2 separate regions of the Homo sapiens genome follow, and region 1 is linked to region 2. Evidence: fine-mapped expression QTL. Tissue or cell type: nasal epithelium. Region 2 holds a variant in brackets; the other region holds the start of a gene. All regions are shown on one strand. Distances are from middle to middle.

What was found. PIP is the estimated chance that this variant, and not a neighbour inherited with it, causes the effect.
Region 1: NTRK3 starts here. The variant in region 2 is fine-mapped to the expression of NTRK3 in nasal epithelium (TOPMed, PIP 0.98).

What each region holds. Positions count from the first base shown.
Region 1 is chr15:88,255,477-88,258,158 of GRCh38, reverse strand. NTRK3 (neurotrophic receptor tyrosine kinase 3) reads left to right here and starts at 1,420. Exons shown (of 20, transcript NM_001012338.3): 1 at 1,420-1,515; 2 at 1,673-1,875; 3 at 1,991-2,253. The coding sequence starts at 2,006. All of the region lies in intron 1 of NTRK3-AS1 (NTRK3 antisense RNA 1), which reads right to left. RefSeq lists an enhancer at 2,202-2,682.
Region 2 is chr15:87,972,890-87,975,571 of GRCh38, reverse strand. All of the region lies in intron 14 of NTRK3 (neurotrophic receptor tyrosine kinase 3), which reads left to right. Among named protein-coding and RNA genes, the nearest start is that of MIR11181, 28 kb to the right of the region's middle. The variant C/A (reference allele first, on the strand shown) is at 1,652.

The DNA.
Region 1 (2,682 bases), 280 kb before region 2:
TTTCAGATACTGGATGCAGTTGAATTGAATTCAATGTATTTTGCTTCCTCGCCTGCCCTCCTCCAAGCTCGGGAAGGAGAACCCTGCTTTCTTCTGCGTGTGAATGCTGTAGTGTGTCTGCCTGCTCGGACTCCCCTAACCCTTTCTTCTCCTTTCCCACAGCGAATGCTCGTTTTTTTTTTTTTCAGCAAACAGCTCACACTTGGCATCTTTATGTTTTATTAAGAAAAAAATCCCTACCAGCGCAAAAGCGGGGCCCCCCCCACACACACTTCTTTCCCGGATGAGATCTGAGCTCTCGTCGAAAGCTGCACCTGCTTTGCGTCCCTACCAGGAAGGGGTGCTTGTGTGGGAGGGAAGGAGGAGGTTCTGCGCCCCCGAATCCGGAGAAAGCAGCCCGCCCGCCCCCTCACCCGGCAGCCAGCTCAGCTCACCCGAGAGCTGAGCCCGAGAAGCCGGCCTCTGACGGTGCTGGCGTGGCGCTTGCCAAAATATGCCCCTTGCATCTCAATTTCCCCCGGCCATTTCTCTTGCACGCACAGCTCGCCCGGGGCCACCTCGGCTCTCCAGCGCAGCCCTTTCGACCCCTGTTTCTTCCTTCCCCGATCCATGCCTGCTCAAGGCCGAATGCAAAACCCACCTCCAAGAAAGCGCAGCGGGCACGGGGGGCACCTAGCGTGCCATGTCCCGCAGTCCCCTCCCAGCCAAGACCAGAGCCCCAGACTCTAGATTACGGAAATGAGTGTCATTCAGACCAAGGACTGCGCGTCTGCGGTCCCGGTCCCCGGCTCTGGGTGCTTCTCTGGGGTGTCTGTGCGCTCCGGCACCCCCCGTCGCCGTCCGTGAGCCTGCGCCCCCCACCCACCCAGGCTTGGGAGCGCCCCCCACCCAAGGCTTGGGAGCACTCCCCAATCACCTCCGCCACGTTCATTTCACTTCCTACCGCGGTCCGGATTGCAGCAAAACCGGGTAGCGCGAGGGCCAAAAAGTGGAAAGGAGAGCGCCTTTCCGTGTCGTGCAGCCAGCTCGCCAACTCTCCCTCCCCAGCCCCGACCCTCGCAATCTCAAATGCAACTTTTTCCCTTCGGTCTCGGTTTCCCCCGGGCTGCGGCTAGCGGGCGCCGCGCTGCGAGGCGTGGAGCGGGCGGGCTGCCGCGAGGCTGCGGGTGGCGGTGCCGGCTACAGCCGCGAGCCGGCGAGTGGGTGGGTGGGTGGGTGGGGAGGAGGGAGAGGACAGGCGGGGAGAGAGACGGGTGTGGGGAGGGGAGGGAGGGGGAGATTCCGCTCTCCTGCCGCTCCCAGCCCGGGCGGGGGGCGGGGGGAGGAGGCCGCGACGAGGGAGGGGAGGAGGGAGGGAGGAAGGGAGGGAGGGAGCCGAGGAAGACGCTCCGATAACCCGTGCGTTTCGTAAGGCTCGGAGCACTTGTACATTTCTGCAGCCGCGCGGCGAGCCATTCGCGGCGGCTGCTGCAGCTCCTACTGCATCTTCCTTCTCTTCCTTTCCTCGGGCTCCGGGTGTGTGTATGTGTGAGAGTGAGTGTGTGTGTTTTGCAGGTGCGTGGTGTGTCCGTTTTAATTCTGCCCAGTAGGTGGGACTTGGTGACTTTAGCACCATTTTTTCCTTTTCCTTTTTTTTTTTTGCCTCCCCACCGTCTGTTGCAACCCTGCAAAGTCTCGGAGTCGGAGAGCGCGCCTCGCTTCCAGAGCCCCCGGACCCGGCGAGTCAGCGATCGCCGAGCCGGCCACCATGCCCGGCAGACCGCGCCACTAGGCGCTCCTCGCGGCTCCCACCCGGCGGCGGCGGCGGCGGCGGCGGCGTCCGCGATGGTTTCAGACGCTGAAGGATTTTGCATCTGATCGCTCGGCGTTTCAAAGGCAGAGGCCCCCCCTCCCCCTTCCCCCCTCCCTCGCCGTCTTTGTTTCCTTCCCCCCCTGCTCTCCCCACTCCCCCCACCCCACCCCCCTCTCCTCTCCTCCTCCTCTTTTTTAGAAGCAGCGATCGGAGATGGATGTCTCTCTTTGCCCAGCCAAGTGTAGTTTCTGGCGGATTTTCTTGCTGGGAAGCGTCTGGCTGGACTATGTGGGCTCCGTGCTGGCTTGCCCTGCAAATTGTGTCTGCAGCAAGACTGAGATCAATTGCCGGCGGCCGGACGATGGGAACCTCTTCCCCCTCCTGGAAGGGCAGGATTCAGGGAACAGCAATGGGAACGCCAGTATCAACATCACGGACATCTCAAGGAATATCACTTCCATGTAAGTCAGGCGGCCGCTCCCCAGCCTGCCTCCCCCGCGCTCTGCGTCTCCCTCCTGCCCACCCGCGGCCGGGAGCCGGCCCTCCGCCCGCCCCAGCTCGCCGCTGCCCGCCGCCCGCTGGGCGCGCGTCAGGCTCGCTCTGGCTCGGGAGATGCTCTCCGGCTGCGCATTCCAGGTGACTCCGGCCCTGGCGAGGCGCGATCCGGCTATGCGTGTGTGTGCCTCTCCCCGGAGAGGACCCCGGCCGCCGAGGGCACGCGGGGCCCAGCTACCGCCCGCCTCCCAACCAGTTGCTGGCTCGTTTCGATGGTGCAAATTGTTTTTTTTTGCTCCCCACTAAATAGCAACAGTTTGGCCACGCTCAAGTGGAATAAAGTAGACGAGGTTCGATTCTTTGGCAGAGGCGGCAGCGGCGGTGGCAGCGGCGGC
Region 2 (2,682 bases):
GATGCCAGTTTGGACTGGCCTCAGCTTAGGGTGGCTCAGGGAACCAGCCAGTCCTGCAGCTCCCTGACCTCCTGCATTCGAATGTCACCAACAGGATTTCACAGTAGCTTTGTCAGACCTTAAGCTTACATTTTGATCCTGCGGGATTTTGCTGCACAGATTGACAGCTGACTCAGTTCACGAACCCAGGGTGCTTGCCAGGCGCTCCCTGGATCTTCATTCTAGAGACTTGGTTGACAGGTGCTGGTTCTGAAGCTCAGAGAATGAGAAACTCAACTGTACCAATAAGATCTTGTAGAAACAAGGTGAAATTCGATCTAACACATTCCAGGGACATGCCCTGGAGAGGCTGGACTTTTTTACTAGCATTACATGATGAGGTCCTGGAACTGGTTGCCAACCTCCCAAGAATGGGTTTACTGTGGGGCATTAATAGTAATAATTCTATGTAACTTATGAAGCACTTACTCAGAACCAGTCAGATTTTACCCACAAGGAAGCTGAAGCTCAGAAAGATTGAATAACTAGCTCAGGTTTCCACAGCTTGAAACTGGCAGAACCAGGACTGACAGGGGGACTGCCTGACACCTCAAAATGCTTTTGGCCACTCTGCAGCCCCCTAAAGTAGCACATCTTCTGCTCCTGGAAGGCTATGATTGTGAAACACCACCTAGGTGCTCCCCCCTCCAACCCCACTCCACTCCTAAGACAGAGAAGTCTTTCAGGGGTCTTCAGGGATGAGCACCATCCCTGACTTCCTTCTGGAACTTTTGGGACAGGGTGATTTTAAAGACTGGAAAAGAACATCTGCAACGTTCTTTCCTCTCATTGTAGCATTTAGTGACTTGGGGGTGTATGAAAGCATGGTTGGGCTTAGATCTGAGATTAATCACATGTCTTACAGTTGGTGAGATTCCCAAGCAATGATGGCCTTTTTGATATTGGGGAGGACTCATCATACAGTTGGATGAGACCAACCTGATCCTTAGGATAGCAGTTAGGCTGCCCAGGTCTGGGCAAGGGTGAGAAGCTTCAGATAGGAAGGTGGTAGAAGAAAGGATGAGACCAACCTGATCCTTAGGATATCAGGTTAGGCTGCCCAGGTCTGGGCAAGGGTGAGCAGCTTCAGACAGGAAGGTAGTAGAAGAAAGGGCCTTGTCTGACTACCCACTGTCACTTAACCTTTCTTCAACGCACCTCAAAGACCTCCTGATATGTCCAAGCTCAGCCATGCAATGCTCACCCTAAAAAGACCAAACACAAATCAGGCTCAATTTGGAAGTCAAGAATCTGACCTCTAGCCACCTCTGTCTCTTCTTTTGTGCGGGAATCCCTTTCTGCAGCCAAGCTCCCAGCAGCCACATCCTCACCTCCACCTCCCCAGCCACAGGTGTGACCGCAGCACAGCACTGGGCTGTGACACATCCCCTGGCTCGTCCCAGTTCCCTCAGGTCAAGACCAGGCATGAGCAAAGGATCAAGCATCTCAGATACAATGGTGAGGCAGCAAGGGAGGGTTGGATGCCGCGGGAAAGCTCAGGAGCGGGCAGATCAATGCAGGACGACTTCATTGTTGTGTAGCTTTCTGCACGGAGCCAGACATGGATTAGGCAAAGAGCCGGAGCCTTTGTTCCTTCAGGGTTTACTGACTC[C/A]TGTGCTCTGGCTAGACTCGCACATTGCTGCCAGCATGACTCTGAAAGCAAGAGCAAAATGAAGGTGGCAGGGAGGGAGAGACAGGGAGGGGGAGAGGGGCGATGCTGGCTGCTTGGAGTCTTCTCTGTGAAGGGCCCAGGGAAAACTCTTAAGCATGACAGCAGAGACGGGAGGAAGGTGGAGAACAATGGGGAGTCTGGCTTCCATCTAGACTGTCCAGCACGGGCCTGGAGCTCTCCTCCTCCTCTCTCCCAGCTCTCCCCCACCCACCACATTGCCAATCTTTAATGCTGGCTGATGTGGGCGAAACTGCTTGCAGCCTCCAGATTCCTTGGATAGCTCTGGTTCTGCATTTTGCCTTTAGAAATCCTACTGTTACCACCCCCTATACTTCCCACCTCCCAAGAAAACCTCAGCCTAGATCTGACAGTATATTTCCAGAGCTAAATAAGACTCCTTCTTCAACCCTACTTGAACCCAAAAGTGAGTTGAAGGAGATATGCTGGCAAGAGATAAGTCCCTTGTCTGCTTTTTTGGGTGGTTCTGAAATTCCATCAGGATTCTGAGGCCCTCTTGGGTAGGACTTTTGTTCCAGTTTCTCCTACTCAGTGGATAAAACTTGCATAGAGTGACCCCAGTTTCCCTTGAAATTAAATCTTGATAAGGGAAGAGATTTCTGCACGGGTGATAAGGTCTAACACCCCTCTGTGTTTTTGCCCCTTTTCATTTTGGCACATTTTCCTTCTATCACAAAATATCTGGGTGTTTGTGCCTGAGAGAGCTAGATCTTCTCTCCTCATTATGCTTGACTTCTGGGTGGGTGTGAATGCATTGCTCAAAGGTTCTGTATGCTCCTGGGCCAGGATGGCGAGGAATGACAAAAACGAGGGGGACAAGGAAGATATCAGAGGCAAACCTTTGACTGGGGCATGCTCTGCTTTGAGAGAAGGGAACAAGAAAGACAGGAGCACTTCTGAGGAGCACAGATCCCACAGGGACGTAGAAGGTACTGATGGCTCAGATTTGGTAT